Linked DNA regions of Homo sapiens: region 2 is linked to region 1. The links come from fine-mapping of genetic effects on gene expression. A gene starts in region 1. The other region holds a variant in brackets. All regions are shown on one strand. Distances are from middle to middle.

Region 1 (17,641 bases):
AGAAGAATTATGACCTAGTTCCTCTTAATACTCAAACTCACCTCAAAAAGAGTTGGAGGAGGAGGTGGCAGACTTGTAATTTTGGCTGATCTCTCTTTTTCCACAAGCAGTGCTTCCTTTCGAGCTTTTATATGCCTTAAGAAACAAGAGATGTCATCAATTAATCTCTCAGTGATAATATTATAGTACAACAGGGTTAAAAATATGTAAGTCATAGGCTCAAGAAATCCTCTAGTCTGATTCCACAGGCTCAGTAAGCTTTACATGTGTAAAGAGTCTATACATATGTTAAGAAAATGTTTACAAATTGAGAGAGGCCTATCTAAAGACAGAAAGCTCTATGGTGGGGACCAACCCAAGAAACTTATAATGTTCTTTAGAGTGAAAAAAAAAAAAACAGAAATGTTGTTAAAAATGGCTGTTGCTAACTAGTAACAGGGCCCTTAATTTTTTACTTTGCTTCACTCACGTTTCCTGTGAATGGCCCTTTAATTTTTACAACATGCAAAAAATACTAATGACTTCCAGAGTCTACAACCTCTTTTAATGTTCTTAATCACATCAATTTTTATTTCATGTTTACATCGGAAACAGACATTGGTTGACATGCATTCTGAAGTAGCCATATATTTTTTCAGAAACTTAGTAACTGCTGCTAAACTCAACTCAAACTACAACTAGAAAAGAAAGCTCATTAGTTACTATGTTCACCTAAGCAAATCATTCCCTGTCCCCAACATTATTTTTAAATCAAGTTTAACAAATGCAATGAATATGCTACTATGTTTATTTAATATTTGCTTACACAGTATCCTATGTATCCTCTACTTTCAACCATGTTAGTTTCAGTTGAGATTATAGTAAAAATTATTACTTTACCAGGTTTTTTGTTTCAGTAATATTTCTTTTTGATTTTTCTGTACTTTCAAGGCTTCTTTATGCCTCAAATCTGCTTTTCTTTTCCTTTCTGCTGCCCGCTGTGCCAAAGCATCCAAATCAGGTTCCTAAAAATATATATTACTTAAAATGTCATGTTAAACAAGAATAATAGAAATGTGTCTCATATGATATCAGAAGTGATTTATCAATTTTGTCATCTTCTTTCTACATACTATAGCAGTGTTTCCCAGAGCATGACAACAGTACCACTGATGATATGCCATATTAGGGGGGACAAACACAAACATTTTAATGTAAAGTTAATGCAATCAATTAACATTATTACAAAAATATAAATAGGATATCGAACTACTTAGGACATGGTTAAAGTACGTAAAATATATAGTGATATGGGTAGTTTCCCAGTCAGGGCAAAAATTGTGAACATGGTATTCAAATAACAGAGGTTTGGGAAACATTGCATTAGGCACAAACTTAATGTGGCATGCATAAAACCACAAAAACCTGAGTCAGAACTTACGGCTATTACTAAAAACACAGACTAAAACCAAGGACCATGAAACAGATTGCCACAGTCTTAAGATATTTTCTTTCTCACTAGTTGTTATCAAAGATTTACCTTCTTTGTAACTAGCTTGTTTACTGTATGTGACTGATTCTGGGACTGTAGTATTTCCACATCATAAATCACAATAAATCAAAATAATGGGGCAGACTTACTGTGACTTTCTGAAAGTCATCAAAAAATGTTTGTTGGGGGGTTGAATTCACCCCACCAAATCTGTCAAAAAATGCCTGAGATGGACAACAACTTCTGATTCAGAAGATTATTATTTCCCCAGATAGAGGAGTACTGGAAGAGAATAATGCTAACTTGAACATCATAGGAAGACCAATTTTATTTGACATGGATTTTACTTGAAATAACTCTTAGTAAGAAATGAGCCTATTATTCACAAATTACATTAAATTTATAAAAAAGTTCAAGCTGCCCCAAAGAAATTCAATGCATGAAAATGTTATCAGAAAAGCATTCAACAACTATAATTTACTTTTTACTAATATTACTGCCACAACAGGGTAGTCAAATAAGATCTCACTCACATTTTCTTTGGCCTGTCGATGTCCCTCTCCCATACTTCTTAAACTTGCCAAATACAGTTTTTCCAAGTTCTGTATTTTCTGAGTTTGTGATTCTTCCCATTCTGCCCTTAGCTCCTCTGCCAAACGTGTAAATTGTTGATTTCTCCTCTGTTTTATGTCTTCTCTTATCTGTAAGGCGATATCTCTTTCTTGTTCTCGAACCTAAAGAATGCATATTTAACAGGTTATATGAAAGGAGGTTTACTTAAACTTTTTTGAAAAGCTATTTGGAAAGAGGAACTCAAATGAATTCTCTTAAGTCTGTCAACTCTCTTTGATACTCATCTTGTATTAGATAAAGACTATTTAAAGCAGAAAATCTGAGTGAATGTACAAAAAGTAAAAATCTCAAGACTATATCTAATGTCTCCAAACTGATAGCTTTTATTCAGCGCCCACTCCCAAAAGGACTGCCATTATCACTCTAATAACCTATAAAAGCTAAAGCGATAAATATGATTCAACAAAATCTATAGCCCAGAGTACAGACAGAGCCAGATGAGAACTCCATTTCTGTTGTACATCATTTCTGATTCTAGACAGAATGGTGCCTGAAACATACTTCACAAAAACTTACTTTAAAAACACTTCTAGAAAAGGGTTATCTGCAATTTCCTGATAAATTTGTTTCAGCAGCTAATAATCTTTCCAATTAGCATTCTTCAAAGTCATCTAAGCTTCCTGTTACCAATTACAGACCATTTTTAAAAAAGATAAAGAGCTATTTTCAATATTCGAGTCAAATAATACCTATCTTCCAACTCTTCTACAATGTACTTAACCATCTCAGCCTATTTTTCAAGTGTTCCAAAACTAGTTAATACCAAATAACCAGGGCTCTCGTATACCCAGAAGAGGTTTTTAAATACAACATTTAGAACACTCTAATGTAAAAGAATACAAGTAATTTGAGGAAGAAAGGAATTTAAAACTTTATTACAAATAAGTCATACCTGTAGCAATCTTAGTTTTCGCCTTCTTTCATAATCTTCCTTCAAAATGAAGGCTTCCTCATTAGGACTCAATCTCAGCTTGTGAGTATTCACGACTTTTCTCTTCATTTCTGTGTACTTTATGTATGACAGTTCTGAATTCAAAAAGGAAAATGTCTATAAAAATAATGTAACATTAAAATAGGGCAGCAAAGATTAGAATAATTTTGTTTGTTTTTTTTTGAGACAGAGTCTTGCTCTGTCACCCAGGCTGGAGGGCAGTGGTGCGATCTCAGCTTACTGTAACCTCTGCTTCCCGTGTTCAAGCGATTCTCATGCCTCAGCCTCCAGGGTAGCTGGGATTACAGGTGCATGCCACCACGCCCAGCTAACTTATGTATTTTTAGTAGAGATGGGGTTTCACCATGTTGGCCAGGCTGGTCTCGAACTCTTGGCCTCAAGTGATCCACCTACCTCAGCTTTCCAAAGTGCTGGGATTACAGGCATGAGCCACCATGCCTGCTCAGAAAATTTTTAAAATTCGTGTTAATACTTTTGATATTTAAAGGGTTATATACATGCAAGGAAAATTTGAGTAAACGAAGTCCAACTTATTTACAAATAGCAATTATAAATTCACACTTAGATCAGTGATACTCAGAAGGGTGGGAAAGTGGAAATGAAGACTGAATCAGAATTACTCAGAAAAGTTTTCTCCTGTTTATAGCAGATTGTCTACCTCGAGTATCTGGACCTGACTTATTCCTGGTTAGCATTTCCAGAGTTTACTGAGCTTAAATGTGAAAAAGCACAAAGACCTAAAAAGATGTTAGCATAGAATAAATGTTTTCAAAACTATAATCTGACACTTTAGAACCTTCATAACTTGTTCATAACTAGCAAGGTTGCTGTAATTTCAAGGGTTCTTTGTTCCTAGATTCAACTCCCAGTCTACTGCATATAACTTGATCACCAAGTGTCATTGTTACCTCATGAAATCACATCAATCCCATGTTCTATAATCTACAGTAAACAATTCTTCAATAATTATAGTGACGTAATTTTTATATGAATGACTTGCTCGGCTGTATCAAGCGTTTAGTTTTCCAGATCTATTCTTCTTTTTTTTGAGATGGAGTCTCGTTCTGTCGCCCAGGTTGGAGTGCAATGACACAATCTTGGCTTACCACAACCTCCGTCTCCTGAGTTCAAGTGATTCTCCTGCCTCAGCCTCCTGAGTAGCTGGGATTACAGGCATGCGCCATCACACCCAGCTAATTTTTGCATTTTTAGTAGAGACAGGGGTTCACCATGTTGGCCAGACTGGCCTCGAACTCCTGACCTCAAGTGATCCACCTGCCTCAGCCTCCCCAGTTGCTGGGATTAAAGGTGTGAGCCACCACGCCCGGCCCAGATCTATTCTTCTGTTGCTACCGTTCACACTGTGTTCTCTCTCTCCTCCCTAGATTATAACATGCTCCTATTTGGGGGAACGAGGCAAAAAGAAATGGAATAAATATAAGAATCTATAGTTCTATAATTTGAATACCCTCCTCAGGTAATTCTGATATTAACTGGCTCCTATTACTGCCATTTCCAAAAAATTAGACACTTTACATGAGTACATGAGCATTTTATCTGAGACAATCAACATTTCTCAGGTCTCCCTCACAATGACCAGGCAGACAATCTCAGTTACTGAATATTTACATCTTTCTAAAGCTGGCTTAAGCCCTCCTTCCTCTACGAAGCTGTCCTCTGATAATTCCTGTTGCAATTTCCCACTCCTGATTTGCCCAACTCTAATACATTATTACCTATACATTCAGATGGGGACTAATTTTATGTTGTCTTGGTATTACCTCCTGTAGTTTTTCATCAATTACAGTTTGCTCTTTCTAGTTAGATTCCTAACAATTGAAGGACAATGGCTATGGGTTTTTTAATAAAAATTTTAATATTCAATTAAATTTAATAAATAACTACCAGGTAATATTTCACATACTATGGATGCACAATGTTTTCAACCAGGTGTAAACAGAATAGGGGCTAGGAGACTGTGGGATTACCTAACAGGGACTAATACCTTTCCAGTGACTTCTCCATCAGAATGTAAGCTCATCAGGGCAGAATGGACTTATTCACCATTTTATGTCCATAGCCTGAAAACAGTGTCTCGCCCATAGGTAGTTACTTCAGTAAGTGTGTTGACTGAATGAATGACTCAATGAGTTAATTTATGTGAAGTGCTACAGAGCTATACACAATCATCACAACCTTCAATAAGACTCTAACACCAAAAAGGACTAACTGCTGGCATTAAAAAAATCTTTTAATGCATCCTACTCATCTAATATTCACACGGCTTTGGTAATGGTAACTAAAGTACTGATTATATTTTTCATGCTATACATGAAGAAACAAGGCCTCTTGGGTTAAAGGACTTTCCCTGAGTGACAACATCTAGTGGCGGAGCCAAGGGAAGAATCTGGTTTCCTTATTCCAAATGGCTCCTAACTTTCCAACACACAAAAATATGTGGAGTGGCGAAAATTTTATTTAAGCTGTTGTTTTTTGAGAGTGAGAATTTAAAAAACAGAAAATTTAACAAAGAAGAAAAAAGAACAAGATTAATCTTCACAATGTATCTTTATTATTTTGTCTGAAGGTCTAAGAAATTCCCTCATATTTAAATAATTAAGACTAATTCCTGATGAATCTCATAGACATAATATTGCTGAATTTTTAAAAAGCCAGACACAAAAAAGTACAACAAAATTGATTTATATAAAGTTCAAGAACAAGCAGAACTAATCCATGAGAGGTAAAAATAAAGTTACCTTACTGGAAGTTACTGACTCGGAGATGGCACAAAGAAGCTTGCTGGGGTACTGAAAATTTATATATTTTGATCTGTATGATGGTTTAGACAAGTGTATACATATGTAAAAATTCCTCAAATGGTATACCTAGATTTGTGTTTTATTCTTATACTTTAAGAGGAAAAAAATCCTAATATTTCAAATTTTAGGTATCCATTACTTCATCTCAGAGGATTATTGAAAAACATATAAACATTTATTATTTTTAAGCTCCTAAAATGCGATAGAATAACTGTTTCTTCTTGTGTATAATTTTTAAATTTTTTAAACTTTTTATTTGGAAATTTCAGGCTTAGAATTCCCATTTGCCCTTTCCCCAGCTTCTCCAAATGTCAACGTCTTGTACATAACCATGGTACAATGATCAAAATCTGAATATTAACACTGACACAATATTTTTTACTAATCTACAGGCAGTATTCAATTTTTGTCAATTATCACACTAATGTCTATTTTCTGGACCAGAAGCCAATCCAAGGATATAACACATTGCATTTGTTGCTGTGTAACTGTGTGTCATCTAAAAAGCAGACGCTAAGATGGGAGTAAACCTGCAAATATTTTATTAGGAGAAATGCGTGTGTGAGGGAAAATGGGAGGGAGCTGATAAAAGTTACAAGCGCCTCAGACTTCAGTGTAAGTCTAACACTGAATGGAGGGAAGTAACAATGGGTAGACCCCTCTTAGACAGCCATGCAGTATAAGAAATGTTCAGCAAGAACCCGTGGGGAGATTCTCAGGAACAGGCCTGCCACTGTCAGTGGCTAGGAGCAGCCCATGGGAAGCATGGCCTCAGTGCAAATGGAGATTTCAGAATGCAGGAGATTAAGATATGTGAGTTACATTCTCATGTCAAAGTTGTCATGTCCCCCTTAATCTGGGACAGTTTCTCAGTCTGTCTTTTCAAGACCCTGTCATTTTTGAAAATACTGGCCAAGTACTTTGTTGAATGTCCCTCCATTTAGATTTGTCTAATCTTATGTGATTAAACTGAGGTTATGTATTTTTGGCAAGAACACCACAGAATTGATTAGGCACCTTTTCAGTGCATTGTTATCAAGAGGTAAATGATGCTGAATTTTGGTCACTTGGTTAAGATGATGTCCACCAGGTTTCTCCTCTGTAGTTACTACTTTTCCTTTATAAATATCTCATGAAGACAGAGTAGAGGCTACAGAAATATGCTTTTCATCATACTTTTGCCCATTGACGTTAGTATCCATTGATGACTGTTGTCTGAAACAACTACTGTGGTGTTTACCAAATAGTATTTTCTATTTCCATTATTCCTTCTACAATTATCAATCGGAATCCTGCTGTAAGGAAGTTTTCCCTGCTGCCCCATTTACTTGTTTATTAATTATTTATTCTTAGTAATATGGATTTTTAAATTCTACATTTTATTACTATCCAATATTGAAGATTATACTACTTATCTTGCAAGATTTCGTCCTGAGGATTAAATGGCTCCTGGTACATAGTAATCACAAAATTAACACTAAACTTGGAAGATCTGGGTTCAAGACCCAACACTGCCACTTATTAGCAGGAAGATACTGGCCAAGTCACTGAAGTCACTTTGGTTTCGTTTTCTTAAACTGTATAAAGGGAATAATAATATCTACCCCAAAAGGTTTGTTCTGACGTCTATGTGACTTAGCGTGAAGTCTTCAAATACACTCTAAGTATTAAGGACTCAAAAGTTCACCATTGTTTTAAAAGTTGAGTTTGTGACAGGATTGAATAACTGTGAGATTAAGGTGGCAGACACCAAAAGAGAGCGTGCTCTTTGCATGAAACGATCCAGGCAAGGCTCTTTTAACAGCTACCAGGTGGCAGGCCATGTCCGCGGGTGATCTGGGGGAAGCGCCCCTCCCCCGACACGGAAGCTCCGCGACAGGGGAGGCTGCGTGGGAAGCTCGCGCGACCCGACCCCAGGAGAGCGCGCAAAGCCTCTCGCACTGAGTTACCGGGTCTGGTCCGGACACTCCTTACAGCCGCCAGCCCGACCGCGGGCAGGGCCCACGGCCTGCGGAGCCTGAGAAACGCGAGCCGTACCTGCGTTCGCAACAAGGCGCCTTCCTGGGATCCCATTCCTCCGGAATACAATCCCAGCTCTTGGGCCTCGGGGAGTCATGCTCCTACGGGGCGACTGGGAAGCCAGTGCATCCCTGACTCACCTGAGAACCCGGGGCCTGGACACAGTAACCGCAGCTCAGAGCAAGCCAGCCTGGTAAGCTCCTGCCCATCAGCTGCCCAGCAGCCGTTTCTGCGCCTGCGGGAGAGCCATCGCCGAGCCGCCGTCACTTCCGTCATTCAAACCGCCCGCCAATGGCCGGACCAAACCGCGGGAATAGGCCCTGTCCCGCCTTCCTCGGGGGCCGCCGGGAAGGCTGCGCGGTGTTAAAAACCCCGCGCCCCGCGCACGCGCACAGGCACGCGCCAGCCCCAGCCTGCCTAGGGGCCCATTATTTGTCACACCTGTCAGGCTTTGACGTTTTCCCGTATGGGCCGCGCTCGGTGGCTCGCGCCTGTAATCCCAGCACTTTGGGAGGCCAAGGCGGGAGGATCACTTGAGCCCAAGAGTTCGAGGTTATGTATTTTTGGTTATGAGTTCAAGACCAAGTCCTTTTAAAAACATGGTGAAACCTCATCTTTACAAAAAATACGACAACAGCAAAAATTAGCCGTGCGTGGTGGTGGGCGCCTGTAATCCCAGCTACTCGGGAGGCTGAGGCAGGAGAATCGCTTGAACCCAGGAGGTGGAGGTTGCAGTGAGCCGAGATCCCGCCAGTACTGCACTCCAGCCTGGGCGACAGAGCCAAAGCCTGTCTAAAAAAAAAAAAAAAAAGTGCAGAGCCATGAGGGTGACTTTTGTTTTAAGGCCCCATCATGAAGATATCTTGGGATATGCATCCTTTTCTGTACTGACTACGGAATTCATTGGTACTATTATGCGCAGTTAACGTCTTATAGCTTTCATTTAAGGCCTCCAGCTCATAACAACAATGAGCCGTATGTTACCCTGTGCCTCCAGAGGTACAGCGCACGGAGAGCACCTCACGGATTTATCTGCTGTAAATAACCAATAATCAGGCGGTGAGCACAGGTTAATACCTATTGAGTATCTGTTATGTGCCGAGTACATTATGTTACTCTGGATGGATTATGATGCCTATACTAGATTTTGCAGTCTGGGTCATGGGGGTTAAACATCAGGAATCAAAGGATTAAAAATGGGGGGTGGGGATGGGAAGTTGCTGACACGATCAGATCTGGCTGCACAGTGGGGAAAAGGTCAGAGAGAGTGAAGACAGAAGGCCGTATACTACTACAGAAAGTGAAAGATAATAGCAATGAGAATGGAGAGAGGTGAGTAGATTGAATAGGAAGCCAAACATCAGGAATTGGTGGTTACCTGGTTATGGGAGGCACAAGAGGAGAAAACAAGGGTGATGCCCAAGTCCCAGATACCTAGCACCTGGGTAGATAGTGATAACATCCTCCTGGAACACACATGAAGAGAACCAGGAGGGAGAAGTAATAAGTTAAGCTTTGAATATTTTGAATTTGAGCTGTTTATGAGATATCTAGACAAAGGGATGCATTTCAGAAACTTAGGACACAAAATTAGCAGTACTTGACAAACAATTGCATGTGAGATTGAGAGAAAAGGGAAAGTGAAGTTGATTTCATAGGCCACTAGCTTGGGTAGCAGTGTTGATTCTTGATTGTAAAGGGAGAAATCAGAAATGGCAGTTAAGTGGGTAGGGTGATGAGCCAAGCTCTGTGTATATTGAACTTCATGTGCCTGTAGAACATCCAGTGATGTACTGTAAGCAGATGAATACATCGGTAGATAGCCCACAGAAAGAACTAGGCTAAGCATAAAGGGATTTCCTTGTTACATGAGTAATAACAAACGCTAGCGGAATGGATGAGATCACTTAGGGAGAATTTGCAGAGTGAGAAGAGCAATGAGCAAAGAACCAAACTCCGAGGAACACCAAAACTTAAAGGGATGGAGTAGGAGGAAGGAAGGTACAGGAAGAAATAGTGTGATTCCACCTCAGATTTACAGATCAGGATACTGAGTTACAGAGAGATTCAGCAACTTGGCCAAGGGCACATTTCAGTCAAGGGTGAACCAGGACTAGAATTCACGTTTCCTTCCCAAATATTAGGGTTCTTCTCAGCCTCTCTCCCCATTTCCTGTCACATTTATCTTGAAGAATATTTGTATTCATTTTAAACATTTTTTCAGCATCCTCCATACAGGCACGGAGATACTCTTCCATACCCGATAAAACATGTGCATATTATTTCATCCCTTGGGCTAGGTTTAGTGCCTGGACATGGGTTCCTGCACATGCTGCCCCATGGCACTTAGGAGTTCTTATTGAAATGAGCTGTTTAGAGGGCTCTCTATTGATTACACTCTAAGTTTCTTGAGAACCAGGAGTGCACTTTGTTCAGTTGCCTGGCATAAATGAACAAAGCTGAATAAATGACCAAATTACATGCTTCACTTCCTCAACCTGCATCCTTGGCAGAAATTCTACACTTGGAGATTTTGAATCGAGACTTGTTCTGTTTTTAATAGAAGGCAGTGAGGAATCAAAGCCCAAGTGGGCTTAGAGTCAGAGCATCTGGCTTAGCATTACCACAGATACTTTCTAGCCGTGGGACCTCAAATCAATGAGTCTTCATTTCTGTTTTGGCGATCAATTGCTGCCAACCGAACCACCCTGGAATGTCCAACATGGGTCACTTACTATGGCTGGCAGCTGACGTTGGCTGGCAGCTGAGAGCTCAGCTGGAACTGTTGACTGGAGTGTCCACTCATGACCAGTCCATGTAGATTGGACATCTCACTCTATTGTGGCTAGTTTGGAGAGGGAGCATCTTAAGAGTGAGCATTCGCAGAGGAATAAAGTGGAAGCTGCAAGTCCTTTAAAAGGTGAGGCAGAGAACGAGTTGTAGTAAGTTGTATCACATTTTATTGGTTAAGTAACATGGAGCCAGGCCAGATTCAAGTGAAAGGGAAATGAACTCCATCTCTCAATGGAGGCAGTGACAAAGAATTTGTAGCCATCTTAATCCACCACGTTTCTTAGTAATACTTCATGTCGCCTCTCTATAGGATGGTTGTGAGACTCAAAAGGCATGAATCATATGAGAGCACTTTGTAAACTCTAGAGGGGTATACACATACTAGGTAGTTTAGCAGTTATTTATTTTATTTTTCTGTCGAACACCTTTCTCTCCTCCTCTGGTACAGACCCAGACCTCTAGGCTACCGGGGTAGGCATGTGACCCAGACTGGACAAATCGCAGTTCTTGTTTCCATTGCCATTGTGACCAACCGAGGTACAGGTATGTTACCTAATTGGGGCAATCAGAGTCTTTCACAGGAATTGGCACTGGAGACAGCAGAGACAAATATTTTCCTCTCTGGGCTCATGTTAGGATGTAAACCTGGAGCTTTCCCAGGTGGTCCCCCACAAGCTGGTCTGAAAGAATGAGTGTGACAGCAAGGAGCGCAGAGAGAGAATTTGGATAGTGTTCAAGTCCCTGGATCTAGCCATACCTGAGGTCAATATGCCTGCCTATTCTGCAGCAAACTGGTAGCAGCCATTCAGTCTTCTACTGAAGCTGCTTTGAATGGGAATTTCTATTTTTTTGCAAATTAAAAAGGGCTGTAGATTTTTATTTAAATTCTCATAGACAAACACATCTGGACATCTTGGGAGATAGTATAGAATAATGTTTAAGATCTTGGCTGAGCACAGTGGCTCACACCTATAATCCCAGCACTTTGGAAGGCCGAGGCAGGAGGATTGCTTGAGCCCAGGAGTTTGAGACCAACCTGGGAAACATAGGGAGACTTAATCTCTACAAAAATATTTAAAAATTAGCCAGGTATGGTGGTGTGCACCTGTAGTCCTAGCTACTTGGGAGACTGAGGTGGGAGGATAGCTTGAGCCCAGGAGGTCAAGGCTGCAGTGAGCTATGATTGTGCCACTGCAGTAAGTAAACTTTGGGCAACTGAGTGAGACCCTGTCTGAAAAATAAAAATGTTACATAGATTTCTTCCAAATGGATTTAAATTTCTGGCTAACTCTGTGACTTTGAGCTAGTTACTGGACTTCTTTAAAAGTCTGTTTCCTCATCTCTTAAAGAGATGTAGTGAAAGTACTCAGGTTCTTGTGAGGTTTAAAGCTCTTGAAACAATGTCTGGCACAACATGTGCAATAAATGTTACCTTTTTTGGCTTTAATTTTAATACATTCATTTTAGAATACAAGAGAGGGAAAAAAACCCAAACTCTTAAATGTGTTTATTGGTGTTTTGGATTTGATTTTTTTTTTTCTTTTTTAGTAGAGATGGGCTATTGCTTTGTTGCCCATGTTGGTTTCAACTCCTGGACTCAAGTGATCCTCCCACCTTGGCCTCCCAAAGTGCTGTGATTACAGGCATGAGCCACCACACCCGGCCTGGTTTGATTTTTAATTCAGTCTTTTTGTAGAGTTTAGGCCTAGGGAGAAGTATGTGTATTTAGTTTCTAGTATTGTTAACCTATTGAGAATGAACCTCAGTAACCAGTGATCAAGAGGAAGAATTGTCCTCAGCAGTAATGACATTAGTGTCACTGGTTTATAATGCTGCCACTCTTCAAAATGCAACTGAAGCCATTTAAGATTTGAACAGTTTAAGATGTTTCTCTGATGGCAACGGTTTCACTGTTTCATCTTTATCCACATCCAATATAAGCAAATGATATTTAAGTGGGGAGGAACCCTCAATAATTCTTATGTATAAACACCAGAAAAAAGGGGGATCTCTGCAAGAACAAAAGTAATCAAAGAACTTCCATCTGACCATATGCTAACTGCCCTCTTTCTCCCTAATATACACACCACAGGAGCTTAACAAGTGACGGTGTCTCGGTAGAATAATTTAGAGCTACTACCAGGAGTGAAATTAAGAGTGCCAGGCAGGAGAGGAAGGATAGGCTGAGAAAAACTTTTAAAAGCTGTAAATATTTTTTAGAGGTATAGGGTAGGAGTTGAGCCAAGGAATTGAGCCACTTGCTTAAAGACAGTAAGAAGCAAGAGGAGATAATAGGGAAATTCACTGGCTCTGTTCCATCTTTTAAATCTTTCCCAGCACATTGCTAATATGATGTGTATCAAAAATACGAATACCTGTTAAGACATAAGTGGGTAGAGTTTGAGTTTCATGCTTAAAGAGAGAGAGAGAAGTCTAGTTAAAAAGAAAAAAAAAGGAAATCATATACAACCCAAAAAAGTACATAGCCATTGAGGGGGCTTGGGTAGGGTGGGGAAGAGTTTTGAAGATGTGTGTTTGAACATCTACTTGACCAACAGTTAACCTCCAAAGCTCAATCTCTATTTATAAAATAGGGATAAAAATACCAAACATTTATTATGCACCATGTGTGCCAGAAATATTAATACCTACCCTATCTCATAGAGCAGTTGTAAAGATTACATTTTAAAATTTTGCGTCGTAAAGATCAAATAGAAAATTTCTAAATATCTTACATAGAAGCATATAAATAACTATAAAAGATCCTCCTATGATTTAGCCACCAGTCCAGACTCAGGGCAGGTGACTGCCGTACCACCATTTCTTTGTTACTGCCATTTGACTCACTTGAACTGATCCAGCTTACAGAGAACAAGAACATCAATCAGTTCTGTTTACTTAGCATTCCCTTTGTCCAAAATTATTTTCATTTACCTGTGAACATAACTGTAACCTACACCCTTGCTACCCAAAGGGTGGTCCAAGGACCAGCAGTGTTGGCATCACCTGGGAGCTTGTTAGGAATGCAGACTCTGAGGCTTCTCCCCAAACCTGCTGAACCAGAATCTGTGTTTTAACTAGATCTGCAGGCAATGTGTATACACATGAAAGTTTGAGAAACACTGTTCTACACAAAGCCCTATATGAGGTAAATAAGCTCGATGCTATACTGGACATTTTGGAATCAACAGGTGAATTGGTGATATTTCCTAACCACAAGCTTAGTTTTCTCATTGCATTATAGCAGACCCTTCAGTATAAGTCTCCTATGTACAGATCTTATCTCTTAGAGTCATTATGATGTATTGTTGTTCAAAGGAAATTTTGTCTCTTCAACTTCCTCCCTCTCAGTATTATCTACACATCTGATCCAGCCTCAGACACTCATCTCTGGGGGTCGTTTTCTTCAGCTGTCTCCTTGCATTTTTGCTTTTCCCTCCTTGGGCAGGGTATCTTGTTTCTACCCCAAACATTCTCTCTCTCCTTTCTTAAAAACTGTAAAGACTTCCTTTAATAGTTTGCTATGGCTGCCATAACAAAGTCCTGCAAACTGAGTAACTTAAACAACAGATGTTAATTATCTCACAATTCTTGAGGCTAGAAGTATGAGATCAAAGTATCTGTTGGCAGGGCCATATTCCCTCTGAAGATTCTAGGGAAGGGTCTGTTCTAAACCTCCTAGCTTCTGGTAGTTCCTTGACTTGCAGATGCGTCATCCCAATATCTGCCTTCAGCTTCAGATGGCGTTCTCCCTGTGTGTGGGTGTGTTTGTGTGTGTTTGTGTGTGTGTGTGTATGTGTGTGTGTGTGTATGTGTCCAAATTTCCCCTTTTTCCAAGGACACCAGTCATACTAGGTTTGGGGCCCACTCTACTCTAGTATAATCTCATCTTTAATTACATCTGCAATGATCCTATTTCCAAACAAAGTCACATGCAGAGGTGTTGGGGCTTGAGATTTCAACATATGGTTTCCTGAGGAACACAGTTAAGTCCTAACACTTCCTCTTGAAGCTAGTGCAAGGATTGTGAAGTACTTGAAACAACCCCGTTTGTTCATATGACTCCCAACTCAGGATTTCGCAGTATAAAATCATAATATTTTGCATGGGCAAAGTAGGTGGAATAGTTGCTTCTTATTAGTGTGGAATTACTGTTGTGTGACTCCAAGTGTTGCCCACATCTTCCTAGTATGCCTGCTGTGCTGCTGGCTTAAAATGTGAGCTTGTCTATGGAAAGGATGATTCCTGAGAGCATCAAGCTAAGTATGCACTGATAAGTAGTGAGATAAAAATGCCCTTCCCTTCATAGCCACAAATCTAAAAGCTACCCATCTTTCAAGGCAAATGTTGTCTTACAAATTCTAATGTCTACCATTTTATTGAGTCCTTAAGTAGCCTGGTATTACATGGCTCAAGTGACAGAGCTGGGGTTTTTACCCAGACATTTCTAACAGTAAAGTCCATACCCTTCCCATTCCTTTCTGCTCACCCCATTGTATTTGACTCCACCCCAATCACTCAATGTATTATTCCTTTTTTTGCACTGCTCTTAAGAAATACCCAAGATGGGGTAATTTATAAGGAAAAGAGGTTTAATTGATTCACAGTCTGCATGGCTGGGGAGACCTCAGGAAACTTATAATCATGGTGGAAGGGGAAGCAGGCAAGTCTTACATGGGTAGCAGAAGAGAGAGAGAAGCACGAAGGAGGAACTTCCAAACATTTATAAAACCATAACTCACTCACTATCATGAGCACAGCATGGGAAAAACCACCCCCATGATCCAGTCACGTCCCTCCTTCGACACATGGGAATTGCAGGTCCCTCCCTCAACATGTGGGGATTACAATTCGAGGTGAGATTTGGGTGGGGATGCAGAGCCAAAACATATCACTCAATAAATATTTACTGAGTTCTTGTGTGAACAATGGTCTATGCTATATGTGTTTCTCTTCTAGCCAGCTGTGATCTGTAGGTATCCTGAACTTTCTCTGCTAAACTTTAATCACACCTTCTACCTTGAAGGAAACCGCATCTCTACGGGGCTAGAACAATAGGTAATCCTCAATAAATATCTGATGAACAAATGAAAGAATGTATGTACTCACAAATAATAGACTGTTTTTCAGATCCATGTCCTGATTATTGTAGTATGATCTAGCTTAAAAAATAATTCTGGGCTTTAATTCATTGGCTAGTAGGGAGGCCTTTTCCACTATATGTCTGGTGTGATTAAACTTTGTGCCTGGTGTACCCTCTTTTACTTGACTTGTTCCTATTGAGTGGCACCTGATGACCCAATTCTGAAGTCAGATCTGTTGCATATGGTCTTATCACCATTTCAGTCATGCACCACCCATTACAGAATCACCTTTTCTGGAGCTCCCGGAGGCCCCTCCAGCATGTTCCATCTCCCTCACACCATGTCTGTGGGTTCCACATTTGGGCTCATGTTGACCTTTCTCCGTTAGATAAAGCCCTTATCCTACTTCTTTGAAATCTCATCTCCAGTAATACTTAGCAAGTTTCAAGCTTCTATTCTGCCCCTGCCTTTTCCCCCACTTTCTTTTTCTCTACCCTCCCATCTTTGCTCCTAAGACTTCACTATTGGGATTTCACTTTTGGGATTTTCCCCAAGCTCTCTGATAGGGATCTATGCATCCTGCACATTCTCTCCTCAGCTTTATTAAAGAGCTAAGGGCTTCACAATCTAATGTCATCAAGCCGCCAGGCCCAGGTCAGAAGAGGTGTGTACCTTTTCAGTAAATGTCCCTCTTTCACCTTCAACCCTAGTCACGGCACGCCAATCTCAGGAAGACCTAAATAACAAACAAAACCATACACATTTCACTGAGAGCAGAATTACCACCATCATGCCCATTCTACAGATGACAAAATTCACGCTCAGAAAGGCTAAATAGCTTGCCTGTTATTACTCATCTTGTCAACCACAAGAGGAGCACTCAATCCCTGGTCTTTTGACTCAAAATCTAAGGGTCTTTTTGCCAGCACAAATGCATACTAACATGTTAAAAAGAGTCACCTTTTGGGCTAGGAAATTTTGCATTCCTTTCCTTCAAGAACGGTAGGTTCCAGGCCAGGCATAGTGGCTCACATCTGTAATCCCAGCACTTTGGGAAGCCAAGGCAGGCAGATCACTTGAGCTCAGGAGTTTGAGACCCGCCTGGGCAACATAGTGAAACCTTATCTCTACTAACAATAAAAAAAAAATTAGCTGGGTGTGGTGGCATGTGCCTGTGGTCCCAATTACTCAAGAGGCTGAGACGGGAGGATCACTGGAGCCCAGGAGATAGATGCTGAAGTGAGCCATGATCACGCCACTGCACGGCAACTTTTTGAGACCCTGTCTCAAAAAAAAAAAAAAAAAAAGCTATGTTCTAGTTTTATGACATCCATCTCTGTTCTAAGGTATGACTCCTAGATAAACATTTATGATTTTTGAGGGAGCAGGGAAAGCATTTTTGGCACCTGTGCCTTCTGCTCCTCACCCCTGAGATAGCCACAGGCCCCCTTGATGACTCACCTTTATGGCTAGCCTCTCATGGCCTCTCCTGACCCTCATCTACTCTGCATCTCGTCCTTCAGGCTAGCTAGTTCAGGCTGAAGGATTCAGTTAGACTACTCTTCCTAGGCGCATGTTTGCATTTTAAGAAAGACATTCAAAGCCTTAACATAAGGAAGCAAGCAATGGGCCAGTTTAGGCACTGTCCTGCCTTTACATGGTAGTGACAAGGCCGGTAGTAGGAGATGCGGCAAATATCTCAAATGAATCCTTTATGGGTATTTTCTTGCAATTCCAGTTGGAAAAAAAGTGACAGAAATTATAATGTCTGCCACTAGGGGGCGGATTAGCCAAATTTTGGAATATTTGTGGGCGAGTGAGAAGACTCAGAAATTTTTTCTTTTCCTATTCTCACAAATTCCCCTGC
Region 2 (14,181 bases), 18 kb before region 1:
TGAGATTTCTAGCTTCAAACAAACAAACAAACAACTTGGCAACACCAAGCCAATAAGACCAAATGAGATCAGCAGGAGCTAAAGTGTAACTGTCCCTTTAGATTGGGCAAGACTTCCATTGTGACAAACTAGATATTGATACTCCCAATGAAAATAACTGAAAAAGCTGCATGAAAGAGTAAAAATATCTTTTTTTTTTTTAAGATGGAGTTTCACTCTTGTTGCCCAGGCTGGAGTGCAGTGGTGTGGTTTCGGCTCACTGCAGCCTTTGTCTCCCAGGTTCAAGCGATTATCCTGCCTCAGCCTCCCATGTAGCTGGGATTACAGGTGAGCGCCACTACACCCGGCTAATTTTTGTATTTTTGGTAGAGACAGGGTTTCACCATGTTGGCCAGGGTGGTCTTGAATTCCTGAACTCAAATGATCCTCCCACCTTGGCCTCCCAAAGTGCTGGGATTACAGGCATGAGTCACCGCACCTGGCTGTAAGAATATCTTTTTAAAGACACTGCTGGCCGGGCATGGTGGCTCATGCCTGTAATCCCAGCACTTTGGGAGGCAGAGGTGGGCGGGTCACAAGGTCAGGAGTTCGAGACCAGCCTGGCCAACATAGTGAAACCCCGTCTCTGCTAAAAATACAAAAATTAGCCAGGCATGGTGGTGTGTGGCTGTAGTCCCAGCTACTTGGGAGGCTGAGACAGGAGAATCACTTGAACCCGGGAGGTGGAGGTTGTGGTGAGCCAAGATCGTGCCACTGCACTCCAGCCTGGGCAACAGAGCAAGACTCCATCTCAAAACAAACAAACAAACAAACAAACAAAGACACAGCTGACCTGGCATGAAAAGAAAAGGTTCTGCAGAGGACAGAAATGAAATTTAAGTGGAAAGCTTGGAGGGAAGGCAAGTCAGCCCTGAAACCATCTTCTGCTAAGCTTATGCCAAAGTCAAAACACAGTAACCTTAAGCTGCTGCTGCTTTTTTTTCCCCAGTTGCTGGTAGTAACCTTAGGCTTCCGTTTGGACAACAATGTAGGCATAGGAGACATGAATAAGGCCTAGAGCCCTCACTTGAGGAGTCTAATAGGAGGCCTACATAAAGTTGGAATCCCAAAAGGCTACGTTCACGGTGTAGGGTGAAGATGATAAGAAAGCCTGGGTGGTTTTAAACAAAGGAAATACCAGTAGATATGGGAGGCCTACATAATAGGAGGCCTACATAAAGTTGGAATCCCAAAAGGCTATGTTCACAGTGTAGGGTGAAGACGATAAGAAAGCCTCAGTGGTTTTAAACAAAGGAAATACCAGTAGATACGGGGCAAAAATAGCTGAATTCCATGAAGAGGACTTGGTCTTTAAGGAGACATGCAGGTAAAAGGAAAGTATTAAAGGTAACTCCCAGTGGTCTGGCTTGGGTAACTGCAGACTGTGATACCATTCACTAAGATAGAAAAGACAGGTAGAGACAGTTTTAGTAGGCAAGAGAAGATCATAAATTTATTGCTAGACATGCAGTTTTAACTATGGGACAGCCAAGTAAAAAAGTTCAGAATGTTGGAGATAGAGATGTTTGAGAGATCAAAATTTGTGCTATCCATCATTACACACGAAGTACCTAGAAATAACTGAATACCAGTAGGATCTCTGATGATCTGACAAGTCTATGCTGATCTTTGTCGTGCTGAACCTCTACTCACTCAAATGGGGATGGCACCAGGTTCAAGATGCCAAATAAGAGATCCAGAGCTAGCCAATGAGATTTGGGGTTTCACTGAGGGCATACACATAAGGGAGAGTCCAGTGGCAGCAGGCTGGACAGAAGAACTGCAACCGCTTGCAAAAAGCATGCAGTTTAAATAGTACTGTCACTTAGTACCCTTTTCCTAACGATCTCCACCTGACAACTTTCATTCAACCCAAAACTTGACACCTTGATCCTCTGTATGGCTCATGTTCCACGGGATGGGACAGGGGCTCAGATGTTCCTCATAGACAAGAAATGAACCTCCAGGTTGGCTACTCCCAGATTCCCTAGCTCAGAACACACATTCAGGTGTGTATGCCACACAGGGTCATTCTCAGGGTATGCTTAAGTTATTGCTATCAGATATGTTTACCATGCAACCTTTCTAATGAATTCAGAATTGAGCACCCAACTCAAATAACCTGAAAATCTTCAGATCATCTGTACGTCTGAATAAACTTTCCTCCTACACATATGAAAAAGGATCGTCAATGATGGAAATATAAAAACGTTGTATCCTTTAGCTACTGCTCCCATCAGTATTACTCATTGCTTGCACTTATATCAGACCAGATTTTCCTAACTGCTGGCTAATGGTTAGCATTTTTTTTTTCTGTGAAATACTGTAATATTTAGCTCAGAAGGGTTTTTACCATCTGTTTCACTAGAACATATTTCAGCTTCTGTCACTGGAAGGTCTTCAGCTGCACCCAAATTTTCTTGTTCCATTGAAAGGTCCAGCTCTTCATCTTGGATCTGATTAGTCACAGTGGGCAAGGGCTCTGGTTCAAGGTGCAGAATCAGATTCCCTTTCACCTCTTAAAAAAGAAAAATAGAGACACGTTTCCATTCCAAAATGATTAAAAATAACTGGATCACAAAAATGCAAAGGCCACGGTAATGTCTCAATCTAAAATATGGGGGGCCTCCTTCAAACAGAGAACTCATTTCAAGATAAAAACTGCTTTATCATTACAAACATATTTTCCCACCAAAACGTATAAAATCACTATTGAAAGCCCTACTGAAAATATCTTACTCCTGTCTGCATTGTACATATCTTCAAAGGCAAATTCCAATTCTCTCTGCCAGTCTTCTTTCATTTCACTGCGTTTGTATGGAAGTTCAACTAGTTGTGGTGGCATTTGTGCTACAGTCTGTCTCCTACGTGCCAGGTCCTCTTGCTGTAGCTGTTTGAGTTCTTTCATTAGTTTCTCCTGATTCTTCAAGAATAAAGAGAATTAACAAAAACTGAGTCACAAACTTTGTATGGTAATATTAACAATGTTGCAGGTAGGGGAAATGAGGATCAGGGTCTAAGCTTCTCTCCTCTCCTCTATTATTTGTTCAGCCAAAAGACAGACATTTATTCATTCAACAATTATTTGCTGAATACCAGATACCACATTAAGTGCTAGGGACACAATCTCAACCCTACCCTAGTAGTAAGACCAACAAATAAGTAGTGTTATGTTAGTAAGTACAATGAAAGAGTGGTACTGGTTAGGCCATAAAGCTGCAAAAAGTGTCTGCCAGCTACAGTTTTCCTTTCTGAGGAAAGTCATGAAGTTAATGTCTATATAAGTTGCCATGGCTCCTGTGATGTACTTTGTTCCAGTTCTCCATATACCTATCTCAGGTAAGCACCAAGACCCAGGGTGACTGTGGCTTAACATAGAATATTTCTTGTTACCTCACACTCTTATGAATTTCCATTATTAAAGGAGATCTGAATGTATTTCTTTAAGCTTAAAGAGTATGGCTAATATGAAAGTTTAATCAGTGTTTTAATGAGGTTATCTAATGGAATTTTGGTGGTAGAAGGTAAGGAGGGAGAACAAGGCAAGACTTCTTGTTCCTTGGGATGGGATAAGGATTTAGCCAGACAAAAGTGGCTGAAAGAGAATGAGTACATGTAAGAAAAAAACTGCAGCACAACAGTATGGAGATGAAGGCACGGGATATTCAGAAAATAGCACACTGTTCATTATAGCTAGGGCATGGAGGGCAAGGATGATTAGGGAAGGAAGATAAAACTGGAGAAGCAGGTAGAAGTCAAATATTAGTTAATATAGACACTAGAAGGAAATAAGGTCCCAGGCCACAATACAGTATGCAGCAAAAAGGTTCAGACAGGAAAAATGAAATCCTCTATTAGCAGTGAGATTGCACGGTTTTTTTTTTTAACAACCTTCTTATATAAGGAACATTAAGTCTACTATAACGTAGAGAAATCCTGCATTAAAAAAATGGTAATGGGCCAGGCACAGTGGCTCACACCTGTAATCCCAGCACTTTGGGAGGCCAAGGCAGGCAGATCACCTGAGGTCAGGAGTTCGAGGCCAGCCTGGCCAATATGGCGAAATCCCGTCTCTACTAAAAATACAAAGAGTAGCAGGGCGTGACGGCATGCGCCTGAAATGCCAGCTACTCGGGAGGCTGGGGCGGGAGAATTGCTTGAACCCAGGAGGCAGAGGTTGCAGTGAGCCAAGATCACGCCACTGAACTCTACCCTGGGCAACAGAGTGAGACACTGTCTCAAAAAATAAAAAATAAATAAAAATAAATTAAAAAGTGATAACATATATACATTACTTATTCTTTTGTAAAGTTTTAACTATTTTGTCTTTTGAGGATGAATTTTTTTTGCCATGTCCTGAAAAGGAAAATTATAAATGAACTTATTTCATTTATACTAAGATTCTAATTATCTAAAGTTGTTTGAGTAAGTGTACTATTCTAGCTCACTGCAAGCTAGTATATTATTCCTTTTGGATTATTTATAACAATGACCACTACCACTAACATTTACTGAGCTTATGAAATTCCAGGCACATTTCCAAGGGCTTTGGAAAACTCA[T/C]TGAATCCTCACAAAACAGATGATCAGGAGAGGTGTGGCAGGGGAGGTTAAAAAAAAAAAACAAAAACAAAAAACAGCCAGGCTTGGTGGCCCACACCTGTAATCCCAGCACTTTGGGAGGTCGAGGCAGGCAGATTGTTTGAGGTCAGGAGTTCCAGCCTGGCCAACATGGTGAAACCCCGTCTCTACTAAAAATACAAAAAACTTGGGCTGGGCATGGTGGCTCACGCCTGTAATCCCAGCAATTTGGGAGGCTGAGGCAGGCGGATCATGAGGTCAGGAGATCGAGACTATCCTGGCTAACGTGGTGAAACCCTGTCTCTACTAAAAATATAAAAATTAGCCAAGCGTGGTGGTATGTGCCTGTAGTCCCAGCTACTTGGGAGGCCAAGGCAGGAGAGTCATTTGAACCCAGGAGGTGGAGGTTGCAGTGAGCCAAGATCACGCCATTGCACTCCCGCCTGAGTGATAGAGCAAGACTCTGTCACAAAAAAAAAAAAAAAAAAAAAAAAAAAAAATTAGCTGGGTGTGGTGACGCGAGCCTGTAGTCCCAGCTACTTAGGAGGCTGAGGCAGGAGAATTGCTAGAATCCGGGAGGTGAAGGTTGCAGTGAGCCAAGATCCCAGCACTGCACTCCAGCCTGGGCGACAGAGTGAGACTCCGTCTCAAAAAAAAAAAAAAAAACAACACATGAAACAGAACTTAGAGAGGTTAACTAATCTGCCTGAGATCAAACAGCTGAGTGGTGAAGAAGACAGATAAATCCTGGCAGAATGACTGTGAAGCCCACTTGCTTAACTACTAAACATTACTGCTTTTATGGAAGAATCTGTTCAATTTATGACTGCTTTTTGTGTCTGTTTTACTATAGGTTTAAACCTTAGATGGGGAGAATTACTGATAATAATTCAGACATTCAGTTATTTTAGTCATAATTCACTCCTAGTTTATGAAAGCTAAAAATTTAAGGGAGAAGCTCATGATTTAGTTCAAACTATAAAAATAACCTTTCATAAGAAAATTTAATTTCCAATGCATTTTTAAGAAGTACTTAAAAACTCATTCCTAAGATGGGTATTTAAAAAATCCAAATGCATTAGTCAAATTCAGAAAATAAAATCAGACTTCTAATAAGATGAATCATTTTTATGCTATATTTTAAGACTAAGCACTAAATGAACAATAAGCATGACAGAAGTTAAGCTAAAACTATAAAGCCAGCTTTCATTACAATATTTTACATATTGATGACAGTCACTATTTATTGATTGATTGACAGAATCTCACTCTGTCACCAGGGTGGAGTGCAATAGTGCAATCTCGGCTCATGACAGCTTCTGCCTGCCAGGCTCAAGCAATCCTCCTACCTCAGCCTTCTCGGGAAATGAGGTCCCAGGCCACAACACAGTCCCAAACTGGGACTGACTGTATTGACTCTGTAGTCCCAGGCCACCACGCCTGGCTAATTTTTGGAATTTTGGTAAAGACAGGGTTTCACCATGTTGCCCAGCCTGGTCTTGAACTCTTGGGCTCAAGCCATCTGCTCACTTTGGCCTCCCAAAGTGTTGGGATGACAGGCCTGAGACAGGCCTGAGCTACCTCGACTGGACTTGACAGTCACTTTTTATTTAATTTTTTTTGAGACAGGGTCTCGCTCTGTGGCCCAGGCTGGCGTGCAGTGGTATGGTGTGATTTCAGCTCAACGCAACCTCCTTGTCCCGGGCTCAGGTGATCCTCCCACCTTGGCCTCCTGAGTAGCTGGGACTACAGCCGCACACCACCATGCCTGGCTAATTTTTCTGTTTTAAGTAGAGACGTGGTTTCTCCATGTTTTCCAAGCTGGTCTTAAACTCCCGGGCCTATGCGATCTGCTCGCCTTGGCCTCCCAGAGTGCTGGGATTACAGGCATGAGCCACCATGCCTGGCCTATTGACTGTCACTTTTTAAAAGCTCCGGTAGCAAGGATCATGACTTTATTTTTGAAACAACATTCTGCAAAGCCAACAAGTGCTTTGCTCAATACAAATTTAATGAACTGAATCCTCAAATTTATAGAGCACATATGCTATTGAAATAATCAGGAAAGTGATTTTTTTCCTCAGGCTGTTTTTGGACATATTAAAATATTAAACTTTTAATAAATTCATTAGTAAAATTTTTAGAATAGCAATACACTGGGAGAATAGCTTAACCCAATCAGAACTTGAAATTGGAGGGCAAAGAAAGTTGGGAAACTTGAAATCATATGAATCAGAGACTATATTGAACACCCACCCTTCCTACCTTTCTTTGAGCTCATTCACTAATCAGTCCTGCAATGCTATTAGTAAGTCCATGAGTAATGGTCATGGGTAGAATATAAGTCTTACTTGAGCCAAATGGATCTTCTTCATTGCTTGGAATCCCCGTACATGTGCCTTTTCAAACCGTTCCATTCTCTCTTGTGCTGCCTGTTTTTGTAGTTCTTCCAATCGTTTAGCTTCCTCTTCAGCAGCCAAACGAGCATCTGGCTAGCAGTCAATCAAAAATTGTAGGCAAAATTTTTAAAGTGTGAGACAAGCAGTAACTAAAAAACAAAACAACCTTAAAATCATGTTTTCTACATATATAAAATATAAGAAGAGTTATATTTTAAAATGTCCACAATTATCAACGGCATGTACCTATGAAAGGGATCAAATTGTTAGTATAAAGCTTTACGAGTTACTCATTTTAAACCAGATGAGGTTATACTCCTCCAAACACATTTATCCATCACTTTGTAAGCAAAGAAATCTCTTGCTGGGCGTGGTGGCGCATGCCTGTAATTCCAGCACTTTGGGAGGCCGAGGTGGGTGGATCACCTGAGGTCAGCCTGTCCAACACGGTGAAACTCTGTCTTTACTAAAAATATAAAAATTAGCCAGGCATGGTGGCGGGCACCTATAATCCCAGCTACTCGTGAGGCTGAGACAGGAAAATCACTTGAGCCCGGGAGGCGGAAGTTCCAGTAAACTAAGACTGTGCCACTGCACTCCAGCCTGGGTGACAGAACAAGACTCCATCTCAAAAATAAAAAAAAGGAAACTTCATTAAAATGACAGTATTGAAAGGTAAATACCCACAAATCTCATTAACATAAATAACACAAAAAAGAGAAAGAGGCACAGAGTCTGGATTTACTTTTTTTTTTAAAGAGATGGGTCTTGCTATGTTGACCAGGCTGGTCTCAAGCAATCCTCCCATCTCGGCCTCCCAAAGCGCTGAGATTACAGGCGTAAGCTACCACATCCAGCCTGGATTTACTTTTATTATCTGAACATTCACTTTCAAGTATAGGTAAATATTCTAAATGTAACCAGCAGTAAAAGTCTTTTTCTGTCTTTTGTATGTTGAAATTCTGCCAGCCAGTTGAAACAATTAATGATGACCAAAAAAGCTGTTAACTTCAAGTGTAAGATTATTAAAAATTCTCACATGGTGAGATAAATAGGTAGAGAGATTGACAGTTATTAAATTAACAAAGAGTACACTGGCCAAACAAATTTATCAAGAATATAACCGCTTTGAGCCACTAAATATTCATGCAAAACTAAATAACATCAGGTAAGACAAAAAAAGTTAGATTAAATCAAAATTATAATCTGTAGGAGTATTTAGTATATCAATATGTATGATATTAAATAATATAACCTCTGAGAACAATATTTCAATCCATTTCAGCCATGAGGTTTTCAAGAAAAAAGTTGTTTATGAATTCTTCACATCTCTTGAAGATAAATTAAAAGCAGTATGTCAATTTTGGTAAACCAAAATTTTAAAGAAAGGAAAAATTTCAAAATAGCATACAACATGAATGATAAATATCAGTCCAGATATAAAAAAGCATATAAAGGATATGAATAAAGGGTTAGAGAAAAAGTTAGGGACCACAAACAAATTTTGTTCTTATTGATCATACTTCAAAACAAGATTTATAATACAGCTTTAGGAAGACAATCCCCTATAGATTTGTGTCAATGCAATTAAAAACATAACCATAAATCTGGTTGAAATAATGTTAGATTCTATTTTCAGTATGTGAAGATCAAAGATATATGAATGATAAATGCTATTATTAAATACATTTCTGAATCTTGTACATCAGATATTTGGACAGAAATCTTTTTAGATATAATAGAGCATGGAAAATTGATGATGAATTTAACTGATTCAGCTTCACTTTTCTGCAGACATTTCTGGGTCTCACCACAAACAATACAGTTAATCTGACTGAATATTTTCAGAATGCAAAGTTCATTTGAAAAAAATGCTACGTAACTGTCACTGACAAAGAATAGACATGATGAAGCCCATGAATATGTAATGTAGGACTTTTAAGCGTATGATGTTTTGTTCAGTTGTGTGTAGAGGTAGCGAATGTAGCAAAACAAAATGTAGAGAATTACTGGCTGTAAGTAGGACTACAGCAGGCCACTTTCATAAATCTTCTTCAGCCAAAGATATATATTATGACATATAAAAGATTTTGGAATTACTTTATCAGGATATTAAAAACACACACACACACAATAGCAGCTCTTATGTGCTAAAAAGGCTGACTGAACAAATGAAAGTTTATTTGCAGAAAGCTGCTAAAGAAAAATACCCAAACATATATGCCAAGCGTGCAAATATTTTTTATATGATACCTGCTGTAAAGATCATATCGTACTCCTCCAGGGAAGATGCTAAAATTATTGTGCATGTGATATAAGTTGAGTGCAGATGAAAATTCAGAGGTAATTTTATCTTGAAAGCCAAGCACATTGGTCATCACATTTTAAATCCAAAGTTTAAGGACAGACTTTTCCTAAGTGATACAGTAAAGCAGCAAATAAAAGAAAATATTCGAATAAAAATGTGTTCAGTAATAAACCCATTTCTGAAAATATTCAGAAATCATATCTTCATTCAGTACACAAAGCTTTAGTTTGTGGGAATACTTTCATAAAACTGTTAGAAACAAAATTTGTTTGTGGTCCCGAACTTTTTTCTAACCCTTTATCATTATAACTACTGATCTAATTTTTAAGTCCAAAAATTGAAAAGGAGGTAGGCCTTCTGGTTACTATCAAAAAAGAAAGCTTATGGATATTAATTTAATACCATCAGCAGCACCCTATGCTGACAGAGTTAGGTAAAAAAAAATTCATCATCAATCTTAGTTAAAAGGTAGCATCTTTTCAAATCACAAAAATGCAGTAAACAGTAAAGCAGTTAGCAACAAATTGAAGTTATTGTTCCTACATCATAATATCGAAACTGTAATAATACTTTACAATTTTAAATAAATCTCAGATTTACTCTTGCATCTTAGAAGTTCATTCTGTGATGATATTCATTTTAGTTCTTAACTGAATATTTTAATACCTGCTATTAAGCAGTCAACCAAAATGTGTATTTGTTGCATTCTAAATGCCACAGGAATGCTATAAAATTTATTTTCCTAGTAGAGAAATATATTCAACATGAAAAAAATTAAAACCCCCACTGACACAGAGAAATAGCAATTATAATAACAATATATCATTTGTTACTCTTAAGACTGGCAATAATTTTTAAAACATAATATTCAGTGCAGAAAAGGCTATGGTAAGGTGGTCATTCTCCTATGTTGCTGATGCTTTTAAAAAGCAATTTAATGATCTGTATCAAATGTTACACAGTTTGGAGCCAATACTTTCTCTTTCAGGAATTTATATATAATCAGAGATGTGGATAAAAACGTGCAAGATAATGCTTACATTACTTACAGAAGCAAAAAATAAAATAATGGTTAAATAAATGCTACCATGAAATATTAAGTGGCCACTAAAAATCATGTTTTGAAAAGTGTGTGTATATGTTTATATTTAAATAAAGGTTATAATGAATTTATTAAAACATTAACTATATTCCACTTTGGTGACAGAATTGGTGTTTTCCCAATAGTTTACACTTATATGTACAGTTCCAAATTTTCCACAAATAGCATGTAATATTTTATGATAAAAAAAGCTTTAAAATCTGCTATTTTAAAATAACCATTTAAATAGCCAACTAGTTTCTTTAATTCATATTAAACCATCATATGCCTGACATGAAAATTCAAAGCATTTAAAAGGTTTTGATTATTATTATCAATTGTCCAAATTTTGAAATCTGGGAACACCATACATATAACTAAGATATAATTCAATTCAATGCACACAGAAATAATAAAGCGAGGGCATGAAGAAACAATAAGTCAATCACCCGTTTTGTGTCTGTCTCTCTATTCACAAAAGTGTGAAGATGATGGTAGGTAGAACTATTGGTTTTGACTGCAGAAATTCTTTTTACTTCGATGTTCTGGAAAAGAGAACATAAAAAAATAGGTTAAAAGCATTAATTTTCACTTAAAGCTGAATCCAATGCAAAAAAAGTAATTTTGTATTTTAATGAGTTCTCCGCATCCAAAACATGCTAAATATCTGCTCATAATGAAATCAAATTTTTTGAGTTAAATTACTTCAAATTTTAATAAAAGTACCAGATTCATCAGTATTTCAAATCATCTTCAAGGTGTCGCTAACTAAATGTGTTTTATTCATCTCAATTTTTAAGTTATTTATAGAGAAATTTCATCTTTAAATCTCCTGAATATAGAAGGGCTTACAGGCCATATCAAATGAAATGAAAAGCACTTCATTATATTTATAAGACAACAACATGCACTACTATGTCCTCTTCCATATCTAATCACAAAAATTCTACTGTAGTTCACATTAGTCTTATTTTCTCAATGTTTAATGACGTATTTTGAATTTTGGTCCTGAAACACTTGCCAATATATTTAAATTACACTTACTCCAGAACAAAACAACTCTCAGAAGAATGAAAGTAAACTACCTTCCCCCTTCCCTTTCCTGTATTTTGTAGTAAAGGCAGATTCAGTCCATCACAACCTATCACATACTGATGTTAAATTAATTAACTAAACTGACAAAGAATATTAAGTGCCTACTATGTGTTAAACATTACACAAGGCACTGTGAACGACAACGAGAAGTAAAATAAAATAATGGCCCCTGGCTTCAAGGAGCTCACAGTAACAGTTCTAACTAGAAGTTCTAACGATTACACATAAATTAAATAATAAACCATGCATTTTACAGATAATTTGATGAAAAAAATATCCACAAAGAAATGCTAACACTTCTGCTGGATGTCTTCTGTATTATATCCCAGTAGTGAAAACTTAGCAAAGTCCCTCAACTTTTCTGTCCCTCGGCTTTCTCAAGAAAAGTGGGTTTATAGCTATCGCTATACCATATGATCATTGTGACAATTACTGTAAGAATCAATTAATGTATAAAAAGCACTTTTAATTTTTTTAAGGCCTGTTGACAAGGCCAGAGTACAGTGGCATTGTACTCTGCACTGTAACTCCTGAGCTCAAGCGATCCTTACGCTTCGGCCTACCATAGCTAGGACTACAAGCATGTACCACCATGCCTGGCTAATTCAATGACATCACAAATGCAACACAGGTTGGGAGGGAGAAAAGTTTAAATAAGAATAGGTTGAGAATTAACCAAAGTTTTAGCTATAACATATATGAGTGTGGAATGATGAGGAGGACTCAAGTGAACAGAAACAATATAAAGGACAAGAAGGGGCTGGGCGCGGTGGCTCATGCCTGTAATCTCAGCACTTTGGGAGGCCAAGGCAGGTGGATCACTTGAGGTCAGGAGTTTGAGACCAGCCTAGCCAACATGGTAAAACTCCATTTCTACTAAAAATACAAAAATTAGATGGGCATGGTAGCACACACCTGTAATCCCTGCTGCTAGGGAGGCTGAGGCAAGATAACTGCTTGAACCTAGGGGTCGGAGGTTGCAATGATGCAAAATGAGCCAAGATTGTGCCACTGCACTCCAACCTGGGCGACAGAGCAAGAATCTGTCTCAAAAAGAAAAAAAAAAAAGAAGGGGGGATTAAGAAAATCCAAGTAAAAATGTACAGTCTGATGTGAGCAGAATTATCTGAGTAGTTTTTAAGAACTTCTCGTGTCTTGGCCCCACACCAAACGAATTAAATCAGAATCCATGGAACAGAGCCCAGTATTAGCATTGTTAAAAAGCTGCGGCCAGGCGTTGTGGCTCACACCTGTAATCCTAGCACTTTGGGAGGCCAAGGCAGGCAGATCACTTGATGTCAGGAGTTTGAGACCAGCCTGACCAACATGGAGAAACCCCTTCTCTACTAAAAATCAAAAATTAGCCAGGCATGGTGGCACACACTTGTAATCCCAGCTACTTGGGAGGCTGAGGCAGGAGAATCGCTTGAACCCAGGAGGCAGAGGTTGCAGGGAGCCGAGACTGCACCACTGCCCTCCAGCCTGGGCGACAGAATAAGATTCTGTCTCAAAAAATAAAAAATAAAAAAAAAGCTGCACAGGTGATAAATGTACAGCCAAAGTTGAGAATTACCTAGACCAGTCAGAAGATAACTAATTGGCAAATACCTGGATATACATCCAGATATGTACAATAGAGGACCTTATTCAGGGTCTTATCATTTAGGTAAAGGATTAAACTGACCACTAATGAAAACATTAACTAGCATACATATACACATATACATATATATATTTGAGACAGGGTCTTGCTATGTTGCCCAGGCTGGTCTTGAACTCCTGGGCTCAAGGAATCCTCCCAACTCAGCCTCCTGAGTAGCTAGGATCAAAGGCAGGTGCCACCACACTCAGCTTTAACTAGTTAATATTAAAGTTCAGTAAGAAACTGAAGTCACAAAACAAAAATTCAGAGATGGTAGTACACATTAGAATGCTTCACTCTACGAAGAATCTTAGTAGACTTTAAATCAATGCCTTGAAAAAATAAACCATAGGCTTCTTGACAAGGAAGAACTCTGAAGAAAACAAGTCTCTAAAATGATGTAATTTGATATACAAATGGGATTCAGTTTACACATTTTAAAGTACCAGTACTTCCAGAGTAAAGGCAATTATGTATAGATTGAATTTGGAATCCTCCCAAAATTGGGATTTGAGATTTTGATTACTATGAATCCTTATTGATTATAACAGGATTTCCAGTGAATTGCACCTAAGTTTTTAGTGAAATCAGTCCTTAGCCTGGCAGAATTAGGATGATCTGTTAATAATTTAAAATCACTTAATTTACTTCCTGTGTTCTATCTTCCAGCCTTAGTTTTGCTCCACAGTAACTATTTCTAGCCTTATCTACCCAAGTACAGGACAAAACCAGCTTTCTACTCTGGAGTACCTGACACTGGCTCATGCAGCAATGGAAAAGAAGAAAAAAAATGCCAGGCACTGTGGCACATTCTTGTAGTCACAGCTACTCAGGAAGCGGAAGCAGGAGGATTGCTTTAGCCTGGGAGTTCAAGGCTGCAGTGAGCTATCATGGGGCTGGTGAAGAGCCACTGCACTCTAGCCTGGGCAACATAGTGAGATCCCGTCTCAAAAAAAAAAAAAGGTATAAGCAAGGGAAGAAGTAAAACAAAGCTCATTTTTCTCTTGCATCTGGTATAGATACATGAGAAGTCTTCATA

Which allele goes with the higher level. Positions count from the first base shown, and alleles are read on the strand shown. Sizes are in standard deviations (SD) of each study's normalised expression.
As copies of T replace C in region 2, the expression in stomach of the gene that starts at base 8,130 in region 1 goes up (moderate effect, 0.58 SD a copy in GTEx).

The links. PIP is the estimated chance that this variant, and not a neighbour inherited with it, causes the effect.
Region 2: its variant is fine-mapped to the expression of CEP295 in stomach (GTEx, PIP 0.94).

The regions. Positions count from the first base shown.
Region 1 is chr11:93,652,171-93,669,811 of GRCh38, reverse strand. CEP295 (centrosomal protein 295) reads right to left here and starts at 8,130. Exons shown (of 30, transcript NM_033395.2): 1 at 8,038-8,130; 2 at 2,997-3,130; 3 at 2,005-2,205; 4 at 880-1,004; 5 at 42-135. The coding sequence starts at 3,104. RefSeq lists an enhancer at 8,007-8,136 and a silencer at 8,297-8,366.
Region 2 is chr11:93,672,340-93,686,520 of GRCh38, reverse strand. It overlaps CEP295 (centrosomal protein 295), which reads right to left. Exons shown (of 30, transcript NM_033395.2): 6 at 10,855-10,950; 7 at 6,969-7,109; 8 at 2,779-2,962; 9 at 2,393-2,557. Among named protein-coding and RNA genes, the nearest start is that of CEP295, 18 kb to the right of the region's middle. The variant T/C (reference allele first, on the strand shown) is at 4,600.